Linked DNA regions of Homo sapiens. The protein of the gene in region 1 interacts with the protein of each later gene in a pairwise test. Each region holds a gene or a part of one and is shown in the gene's direction. Other genes may lie near its edges.

Region 1 (5,880 bases):
TTGTTTGAGTCTAGAAGTTCGAGACCAGCCTGGGCAATATGGTGAAACCCTGTCTCTACAAGAAATACAAAAATTAGCTGGGTGGTGGTGCACACCTGTAGTCCCAGCCACTCAGGAGGCTGAGGTTGGAGGATGGCTTGAGTCTGAGAGGTTGAGGCTGCAGTGAGCTGTGATCACACCACTGTACTCAAGCCTGGGTGACAGAGTAGAGACCCTGTCTCAAAAATAAAGAGAAGAGTGATCATTTGAAAGGGTAGAAAAATGAGTTGAGGGAAAGTGTTTCTAAGACAGGGGAAAGGCACCAGTAGAGTGAAAAACTAGCTGCTAATGACCAGGAGGATGATCAATAAATAGAGTGAGGCCCGGAAGAATGTGTGGGGGGTACTAGATTGATAACAAAAGTGGAGTGGTAAAGACATTACCTTTGGTTGGGCACAGTGGCTTGTGCCTTTAATCGCAGCACTTTGGGAGGCTGAGGCAGGAGGGTCATTTGAGGCAGGAGTTCAAGATCAGCCTGGGCAACGTAGTGAGACCCCCGTCTCTACAAAAAAATTAAAAATTAGCTGGGCATGGTGATGTGTGCCTGTAGTCTTAGCTACTCGGGAGGCTGAGGTGAGAGGATCACTTGAGCCCAGGAGCTAGAGGCCAAAGTGAGCTGTCATCACACCACTGCACTCCAGCCTGCGCAACGAAGTGAGACCAAAACAAAAAAAACACAAAGATATTACCTTGGAAATGGCTTGGTAGAGACAGAATCAGCTCCTTAAAGACAACAGTAAAAGAGGAAGAGTGAAGTTATCGAGTTGTTTTTTTTTTTTTTTTTTTTTTGTGAGACAGAGTTTCACTCTTGTTGCCCAGGCTGGAGTGCCGTGGCGCGACCTCGGCTCACTGCAAGCTCCGCCTCCCGGGTTCAAGCCATTCTCCTGCCTCAGCCTCCGAGTAGCTGGGACTACAGGCGCCCACCACCAAACCCGGCTAATTTTTTGTACTTTCAGTAGAGGTGGGGTTTCACCGTGTTAGCCAGGATGGTCTCGATCTCCTGACCTTGTGATCCACCCACCTCAGCCTCCCAAAGTGCTGGGATTACAGGCGTGAGCCACTGCGCCCGGCCGAGATGGAGTTTTTCCTTGTTAGGCCGGTCTCGAACTCCCGACCTCAGGCAATCCGCCTGCCTCGGCCTCCCAAAGTGCTGGGATTACAGGCGTGAGCCACCATTCCCGGCCAGTTACAGAGATTTTATGGTGAAGAGGGAAATTGAATTCTACATTGGCTGGCCATCTGGTGAGTGTGATGGTGATAATAGTCTTCACAAAAGATGAACGAAAGGATGGCTGAGCAAGGGTGACCACTCAGCCAAAGTTTGACAATAGTGATTTGTAGTTGACCCATTTGATACAAGTTTCTAATTCCTTAACTCTCTTCAACAGCTTGGGAACAGAGAAAGGAAATGGAAGTTGCCCAGGGTCAGAAGGGTTACAAGGATAGGGGATTCTAGGGTAACAGGGAGTATTTCCATGTAATGGCCCACCATGGAGAATCCATAACAGTGATGAAGGTCTAAGACAGTAGTTTTCCATATGTTCCTTGGAGCCCTAAAATTTCACTGCAATGCCTGGGGGTTGGGGGGGCGGGTGTTGACAGCCCTCCTGATTTAACCAAGGTAAATTTTACTTGTTTATTAATTATGGGAGTTCCGTGGCATCTCTCATTAGAAGAAAAGGTTCTTTTACTAAAACAGTTTTAAAAACACTGGCCCAAATGAACAAGTGTTGAGTTAGAAGTTTAAAAGATGATGAGCAGGCTGGGCGCGGTGGCTCACGCCTGGAACGCACTTTGAGAGGCTAAGGCAGGCAGATCATCTGACGTCAGGAGTTCAAGACCAGCCTGGCCAACATGGCAAAACCCCATCTCTACTAAAAATACAAAAATTAGCTGGGTGTGGTGGTGCACACCTATAATCCCAGCTACTTGGGAGGCTGAGGCAGGAGAATCACTTGAACCCAGGAGGTGGAGGTTGCAGTGAGCTGAAATTGTGCGGCTGCACTCCAGCCTGGGTGACAGAACAAGACTCTATCTCAAAAACAAACAAACAAACAAAGATGATGAGCAAAGTCATAGAAGCTAGGAAGTAGAAGAAAAGGAAGGAGCAGAGTGCAGTAGTTAGGCCTTAAGCATGCAGAGAATGGGAAAAGAAACAAAAGAACCTTATTCAGAGGACTACTAGACTAACCCTGAATTTACCCTGAATTATATCACCCTAAGGTCCTCGTATGTTATTTTTTTCCCGTGACTTAGGTACATCCAGGAAAGAGGGTTGGGGATAGGAGTGAGATTGGAGTTAAACATTCTCAAGTAATATCTCTGATAGCATTCATGAACTAGGAATTGTAGTTCTTTGTAGTGTTTTACTCAAAAAGCTTCTTAGGATGATGATGTGTCAGTTATTCGTAACATTATAGTAAATGTCCACTTGTTAGGTAAAAGGAACAGAAGAGCCTAAACATTTTTATAATAGCCTTTTCAGAACAGTGGTTCTTGACTTTTTTTTTTTTTTTTTTTTTTTTTTTTGAGATGGAGTCTCACTCTGTTGCCAGGCTGGAATGCAGTGGCACGATCTCGGCTCACTGCAACCTCTCACTCCCTGGTTCAAGCGATTTTCCTGCCTCAGCCTCCTGAGTAGCTGGAATTACAGGCGCCTGCCACCACATCCAGCTAATTTTTGTATTTTTAGTAGAGATGGGGTTTCACCATGTTGGCCAGGGTGGTCTTGATCTCCTGACCTCATGATGCACCCACCTCAGCCTCCCAAAGTCCTGGGATTACAGGGCTGAGCCACTGTGCCCGGCCGGTTCTTGACTTTTCATGGGTCATGGACCCCTTGCCCCTTTGACAATTTGATAAAATCTATAAAAATTTCTCAGCCAAAAAAAAAAAGAAGAAAGAAAAAGAAAGCATACAGGTAGAGTTCTGTATAAAATTTGTGGGAGTTCAAGGACCACCCCCACCACACTGAACTCTCTGTGGACTTCAGCTTAAGACCCCCTGATTTGGGTGAAGACCTACTGAGGAACATCTGATTCTGGAGAGTCTAAAGTGGGATTTCAAGCAGAGATATTTCAAGATACGTCTCTTGGAAATCTTGATGTTTTTCCTTGACTTCTCTCTTTCCTTCAGGCTCTTACATCCAATAAATCAACAAATCCTATCTATTTTATATTTTAAATATACCCACATCCCACTATCTCCATCACTACCTTCCTATTTCAGGTCACCATCTCTCACTTGGATTGTGGCAGTATCCTCTTAGTTGCTTTCCCTGCTTATATCCTTGCCTCATAGCCCCCACAGCCCATACTCCACACAACAGCCAGAGTGGCCCATATTTTTAAAAGTGTTTTTATGTCACTCTATTCATGTCATGTATTCAAAAGCCTCCAGTGGCTTTCCCATTCAAAATACCATGATATTTGATATTTGGTTATTGTGACCTACCAGGTTCTACACATTATGGCCCTGGCTATGTCTGACCTCATTTTCTATCACTCTTTTTTATCTCAGCCATACTGGCCACCTTGTTATTTCTCAGCCATGTCAGGCCAGGCACGCTCCCACCTCACAGCCCTCGTATTTGCTTTTATTCCTTAGCATACTCTTCTAGATATTGGCTTAGTTATTTTCCTGAAGTCTTTGTTCACTGTCATCTCTTCAGAGAGTTCTCTTCTGACTACCTTGTATATAATAGCACCGCTACTTTTCCACCATCACTGTATGCATTTGACCTTACTTTTTGCTCTTTCATAGCACTTATCACGACCTAACTCATCTATTTCTTTTTGTCTACTCCCACTGGAATGAATGCTTCATGAGACCAAGGACTTTTATATGCTGCTGTGTCTCCAGCACTGAGAATGGTGCCTGTCACACAATAGGTACTCAGTAGACATTTGTCAGATGACATACTAGAATGCATCCTGAAAAAGAAAGGCAGCCAGGGTGGTTATGAGTCTTCAGATGATAAAAGGATGAGCCAGAAGAGCTGCGAAAGTTTTGCCCAGAAGAAAAAAAGAGTTGATCATTTTTTAGGCTGTTTCACAAGGCATTCCTGCATCAGTGGCAGGTAAATGACCCCTAAGATTCTATGATTTTTTTGAAGGTGTAGTTCCCAAAATGGAAGCATCACAGGAAGCACTGTGTTGCGATACTAAGCACCCACCCTAGTAAAGGCCAGTATAATCAAATGACTAAGGTACTCATCTTCCCTAAAGGACTTGCTGAGATCCGGTTACTTCTGTATTTTTCTGGCTTCAGAAGGTACTCCTCAGCCCCTGCTGGGCCCTAACTTGTCATCTGAGGGAACTGCCTGGTGGCTAATTCTGGGGTATAGAATCTATATCCCTGCCAAGGTGGAAATTGGTATGCTTACTACCCTATCATTTGCAAAGGTAAAATCTTATTGAGGCCTTCTTTTGAAGGAATACCTCTTCATTTGTAAGTTCATGGGTAATGCTTTTCTGTGGAACAGATACAAGCAGAAGAAGGAGTTGGAGCATAGGTTGTCTGCAATGAAATCTGCTGTGGAAAGTGGTCAAGCAGATGATGAGCGTGTTCGTGAATATTATCTTCTTCACCTTCAGAGGTGGATTGATATCAGCTTAGAAGAGATTGAGAGCATTGACCAGGAAATAAAGATCCTGAGAGAAAGAGACTCTTCAAGAGAGGTAAGCCTGGCCAGAGAAATCTACTGCCAGAGATTTGAGTATTCTACAGGAGATCAAATTAAGATCCTTTTAAGTCTCCATAAAATCACTGTTTTTATCAAGATGAGTATAGAAAGGCCGAAGGGTCACTAAGGTAGCTTTCTCTTTAATTTAATGTGTTCCCCAGTGCTTTTTAATCTGTAACACACTTGTAGTCATTTGTAATTTTGTGGTATACCATGGGGGACAGAAATGTCTCTGAAATAAAAATTGGTTTTGGTTGTGGAAAGCTGTGGCTGCTGAGGGAAGGCATAGGGAGTTAAACCTTTAAAATCTGTGCTAACTGGCCACCACGGTGGCTCATGCCTGTAATCCCAGCACTTTGGAATGCCGAGGCGGGTAGATCACTTGAGGCCCGGAGTTTGAGACCAGCCTGGCCAACATGGCGAAACCCCCTCTACTAAAAATAGCCGGGTGTGGTGGTGCGCGTCTGTGATCCCAGCTACTCGGGAGGCTGAGGCAGGAGAATTGCTTGAACCTGGGAGGCAGAGGTTGCAGTGAGCTGAGATCATGCCACTGCACTCCAGCCTGGGTGACAGAATGAGACTCCATCTCAAAAAAAAAAATTGTGCTGACTATAATGAAGGGGAAGAGAGGAAGAGGATGGGAATGGAGAAGAAAGGTAGAACTGGAGGAGAGGGAGAAAAGAGTAGGAAGAGTGAAATAAAAGACCAGGGGGATATGCTTAGGTTGGAGGAGGAATTAGAATTTAACCTTGCCACAATGATGCACTGTCACACCTTTAGATTACCCACGTAGGAGACACAGCAAGGGCATTTCCATGCACAGAATGTCCAGTAAACTGGTAAAGAAACCTGGTGTAACAGCTTTGGCTATCTTTGAACATCATAACCCTGTTTTGGAGCTGCTGCTTCAAAAGAATAGGCTCTGCTGCCACTTGTTCTTTGGTTCAGGACACAACATGAATTGGGTTGAATTTATCAGCAAGTCACAGGCATTTATTTAAGTCCTCAGAGAAACCTCTTCCTAATTTGATTTGTACTAATTAGCCCAGGAGCTCTTGCCTCAGGATAACATCAACCTAGTTCTTCATGTTAAGAGATCAAAGAATGAACAATTAATATTCTAAGGTTATAAGGCCCCTTGAGCATGTCTAGATGAG
Region 2 (5,199 bases), on another chromosome or scaffold:
TCCTTTGATATACAAAAGGTTTTAATTTTTATGAAGTCTAATTTGTCTATTTTTAATTTTGTTGCCTGCCTTTGATGTCATATTCAAGAAACCATTGCCAAATCCAGTGTCATGAAACTTTTCTATGGGAAGGCTTTTATCTCCATATTGATGCTATGGCTCAGATAATCACAAAGATTTAGTTACTCCGAGTTAACAAACAGAAAAGCAGACCATTTGAAGATGTAGCCTATCCAGTGGAAGAACTTATCCTTCCCAAGCTTATAAAGTTAAGCCAAAAGACAAATGGGAATCTCTGCCCGTGACTTGCAGTGATGACTTTAGTGATGCATAATAAATATTATGAAAAGCCTGTTGGGTAGTTCCATTTTAAATGACAAAGTTATTTGTTGTCTGAAAGCTAGTTTCTGAACTTTGATGATCCCATTTAAAGTTGACAGTTTACAATCAATACTTGTGTAGCCCAGCACAGTAAAGGCATCCATTCTGGTGGCTTTGGCCACTGTAGTTTGAATCCTTTCCCCAACCCCTTCTTTAGCAGTTTGAGCTGGAAAGCAATGATGAGGAAATCTTGGTCTTTCTGCAGCCTCATCTCTGTATACAGTATGAAGTCCTAGAAGCTGCCCAGCTGGCCATAGAATCCTTGGATGGTATTCTGGTAGATGGTATCTGCATCAAGGTAGGGTGACAAGAGAAAGCCCCCTTTGCTTGGGTCTGGCCTACCACAGCCTGTATTTATAGTGCCCCAGGACATATAGGAAACACTCTCAAGAGGCCCACGCACAAGACTTTGTTATGGAAAGTCTTCAGCCAAGTCTAACATTCTCCTACTGGCAGTGATTGAAGACATAACGGCTTTCATTTGTGTCAGAAATCATCCTGGGCTAGATTTGGGTCTTCCTTGCATTCTTTGTTACTACTTAAGTCCCCTGTGGTTTATTCTGGTTGGTTCTTTGTGGTTACCCTTTTCTTCACCTTTCAGGGAGATCAAATGGTGGTATTTTGAAGTTTCTTGTGCACATAAACAGAATTTCATTAAGGGTGGGAGGCAGGAAACTGAAGAGAATATGTTTACATGAAAATATGTATTTATCAATTAAGTCTCTAACATAATTCTGTGAGGCCATTATCTTTAGTTTCCTTTTACAGAAAAGAAAAGAAACGGAAAATTTTAGGAAACTGAAAAATGAAGTTATTAGTAATGGCAACAACTTGCTAGTATCCAATAGGCCTGAGGATTAAATTGATTTTCTACCACTAACACCAACTTTCCTTGGTTAGGTGCAGAGGCCTGTGACAGAGCTCACGCTTGATTGTGACACCCTCGTGAATGAGCTGGAAGGAGATTCTGAAAACCAAGGCTCTATATATCTGTCTGGAGTGAGTGAAACCTTCAAAGAACAGCTATTGCAGGAGCCCCGCCTCTTTCTTGGCCTGGAAGCTGTGATCTTGCCTAAAGATCTTAAAAGTGGAAAGCAGAAAAAATACTGTTTCCTGAGTAAGTCTATGCTACTGAATGTAGCTTTGGGGAAGGAAACTGGGGATGGTGATAACATGAGGTCAGAGAAAGGAAGATTCACCTCCTGGGCTGGACCAGGGCAGCAGTTCCTGATTCTGTCCTTCTCCTTTGACCCTGGCCAGGCAGCTTGGATGGTGATCAGCTTTCTTGGCCCTTAATAACATAAGGTGGGGGTTCTTGCTTTCAGAATTCAAAAGTTTTGGCAGTGCCCAGCAGGCCCTCAACATTCTCACAGGCAAGGACTGGAAGCTGAAAGGCAGGCATGCCCTAACCCCCAGGCACCTCCATGCCTGGCTCAGAGGCTTACCACCTGAATCAACAAGGCTCCCAGGGCTTCGTGTTGTACCTCCCCCCTTTGAACAGGAGGCCTTGCAGGTGAGTGAGTGAAGGCGTCTTGGAGAAGATGTCAGGAGAGTCCTGCTCAGTGACACTTAATCCTTTAATCTTTTTTTTTTTTCTACCCTGGCCCTCAGTCTTATTTCACTCTCCAGCTTCCTCCAGTCCTGGCCACATCTTTTCTCGCAGATCTCTCATACTTTTGCCCCCACCATACCTGCTAAACTTAGTTTTTTAGTCTTCCAGATCTCCAAGGGACTTTGAAGGACAAAGGCAGGAAGTCAGAGAGCTGGACAATTATTCAGTGATCTAGTCTAGGGTTTCCCAAAGTGTGGTATATACACAAGATAAATTGTGGTTGTCATAGATGGTCTTTTCTTTTTTGTTTTCACTTTTATGATTATGGACTTGTCCGTCTTTTTATTATATCTAAGACATCTGAATGGACTTGTTTTGCTAATACTTGTTAAAGTATACAATAACTACATTGAGCCTATGATTTTGTGGATGGCATTAGTTAGACAAGGCTAAGGAAGAAATTAACTCACTTTATGGAAAAATGTTAGAGGGATATACAAGCAGAAGAGTGGAGGTAGAAGGTAAATGGCTGAAGCTTGGGAAACCCTGTCTTAGTCTAATCTCTCATACTTAACAGATGAAAAGTAGGGGCTAGAGTTGGTAAGTCACTTGCCCAAGGTCACAAAGAGACTTAATGGCAGAAGCCAGACTAGACCCCTCATCAGCAATGTGGCTCCCCTAGCTTGGGGTCTTGGAAGACCCATGTGGAGGAAAGGACAGTAGCTGTCCTCCCCTGAGGAAGTCCTTAGCCAACTTGGAGGCCTGGGGATGCTGGGTCAGCAGAGAACCTGCAGTGTGGGCTCCAGTGTTAGAAAAGGGATTTGTCTGGAACCTTTACTGGAATCCCATAGCCTTAGAGGCAGAGGAAGAGTGTTGCAGCCCTTCCAAAGGTAACGAGAGAGTGTTCTGGCTGAGTATCGACACATGGCTTTGATCCCAGACTCTGAAACTGGACCACCCGAAGATAGCAGCCTGGCGCTGGAGCCGGAAGATTGGAAAGCTCTACAACAGCTTGTGCCCGGGCACTCTCTGCCTCATCCTGCTGCCAGGAACCAAGAGGTAAGGACTAGAAAGGGTATCCCTTCAGGACTCTGTCCCCTGGATTTCAGCTGTTCTTAGAGAAAAAGCCTTTTGCTGATATTTAGGCACATAGTGAGGACTTACATGAATCATCTCTTTAATTTTCACCGTTCTAAAAGATAGGCATTGTATTCCCATTTCACATTTATATGCTCTTGTATAACTACATTTATTGGTCCCTCAAGGAGATAATTTATCCCCAGTTAAAACCAGGAGTCTTATGTCCTTACTGCTCTCTGGAGTAAGAAGTAGCTGCTAACCCCACTTGAGTAAAAAAAGTAAAGTCTCAGAACAAGCCCTAGGCTTAGGTGTAACCACTCTACATGTGAGGAATGTGTTCCTGCCTTCTGTACCCTTTTCCCCATTGACACCTATGTTTTAAGAGATAACAGGGCCTGGTTTGCTGATTCTAAGCCTGAGGAATACTGGAGCAGGACTTTGAGTCTAGTTGCAGCTTTATCACCTATCTCCTCTGACAAGTGGCCAAGCTACTTCCCCACTGTAGGTCTCAATGTCCTTTTAGTAACATGAGGGATTTGGAATAAATCAGTTGATTTTCAAACCCTTTTAACTGTAAACCCTTTCTTTAAAGAAAAACTGATATTAAATCTTAAAGCATAAAGATGGGCAGTTTTGGAATGAGTGAGTGGGCAGCTAAATGAATGAGTGTATATTGGGGAAGGGAGGGAAAGATGGTGGCTTTTTTGAACAGTGTGAAAACCTTGGGTTGTGTTAATTTTTAAAAGTCCCTTGAGATTCTGACATCTGGTTAGGCGCAGTGGCTCATGCCTATAATCCTAGCACTTTAGAAGGCCAAGGTGAGCGGAGCACTTGAGCTCAGGAGTTCAAGACCAGACTAGGCAACATGACAAGACCCTGTCTCTACCAAAAACACACACACAAAAAAAAAAACAAAAAAAAAAAACCCAGCCAGGTTTGGTGTTGTGTGCCTGTGGTCCCAACTACTTGGGAGGCTGAGGCACGAGAATCACTTGAACCCAGGGGGCAGAGGTTGCAGTGAGCTGAGATTGCACCACTGCACTCCAGCCTGGGCTACAGAGTAAGACTCTTATCTCAAAAAAAAAAAAAAAAAAAGATTCTTACATTCTAGGAGTTGACAGAGCATGAATACCTCTGGCCTTGAAGGTGGATCAGAAGAAATTCATTTCCTAGCATAAAGTTCTTATAACATGCATCTGAGGACCATTAGGGAGATGGTCTACCTACTGGGCACCTTTGAAAGAACCGCTTTCTCTGAAAAGCAGAAACAAGTATTAGGTGCTTACATTGAGGGGAAAAAAAATCTTAGACCAACATACTTTAAACAGGCTTGTGGGTAAGCTAACAGGAACAGGTTAAAAAGTGACCACAAGTTGCCAGTAAAAGCTTTTTGGTTAAGATGTGGGCTCTGGGGAACAGACAGACTTGCTCCTCAGGGGCAGTGTATGGTGGTAGGTGGACTGGGTTTTCATGTTCTCACGTAGAATACTTAGATTACAGTCCACCATTGTTTAGGTAAACTAAGTCAAGAGTAGCCCAAATCATTGTTCTTCCTGGATGTTCCACAGAGGGTGAAGCCAGAGGAGGAAGTGCTGGGGTCAGGGAGCAAAAACACTTAAGTTGTGACTGAGACAAAGGTCCTAAGTTTGACAAGTCAGTAGAATTAAGCACCCCCTGGAAGCAGCAAATCCTGTGGTGAAGAAACCTGAACTACTCCTATCCTTTAAAAGTCACATTCTGATTTCTGTAGACATATTGATCAAACTCAGCAGCAGTAGCATGCATTTCCCCAGGCTGTGGAAGCTTGCTGTGTGACTGACTTCTCTGGGCCTTGTTTGTGCAGTTGTGTCCGTGATGGCAGCAGATACTCTTGGGAAACGTTGGGGAAAAAAGGAATAGCAAAAACAATAGAAGGTTTCCTTAGGCTGGGGTCTTGATGCAGCTCTTAATCCTTACATTTTTGGTAGCTTCTTAAATTAATATTGAAAACAACAGTAATGTATTAAACCCAGGTACTGTGCTAAATGCTTCTATATGCATTTTTGGTTGAGGTTGTCAGAATCTTTACTGAACAAGTGGAGAAAAAGTCTCAGATTAACCAATTTTCCTAGGGTCACATAGCTAGTAAGTGCATAGTCAGGACTTGTACCCTGATGGTGTGTCTGACTCCAGAGCAACTCTCCTGC

What was found.
Region 2: the proteins of IGBP1 (region 1) and REXO5 interact in a two-hybrid assay, tested with the Homo sapiens proteins (one large-scale study listed by BioGRID and IntAct).

The regions. Positions count from the first base shown.
Region 1 is NC_000023.11:70,142,111-70,147,990, forward strand, and holds part of IGBP1 (immunoglobulin-binding protein 1), read left to right. Parts: intron 1-4,522; coding exon 4,523-4,718; intron 4,719-5,880. UniProt on the Homo sapiens protein: Associated to surface IgM-receptor; may be involved in signal transduction.
Region 2 is NC_000016.10:20,843,348-20,848,546, forward strand, and holds part of REXO5 (RNA exonuclease 5), read left to right. Parts: intron 1-586; coding exon 587-679; intron 680-1,281; coding exon 1,282-1,498; intron 1,499-1,706; coding exon 1,707-1,894; intron 1,895-2,873; coding exon 2,874-2,992; intron 2,993-5,199.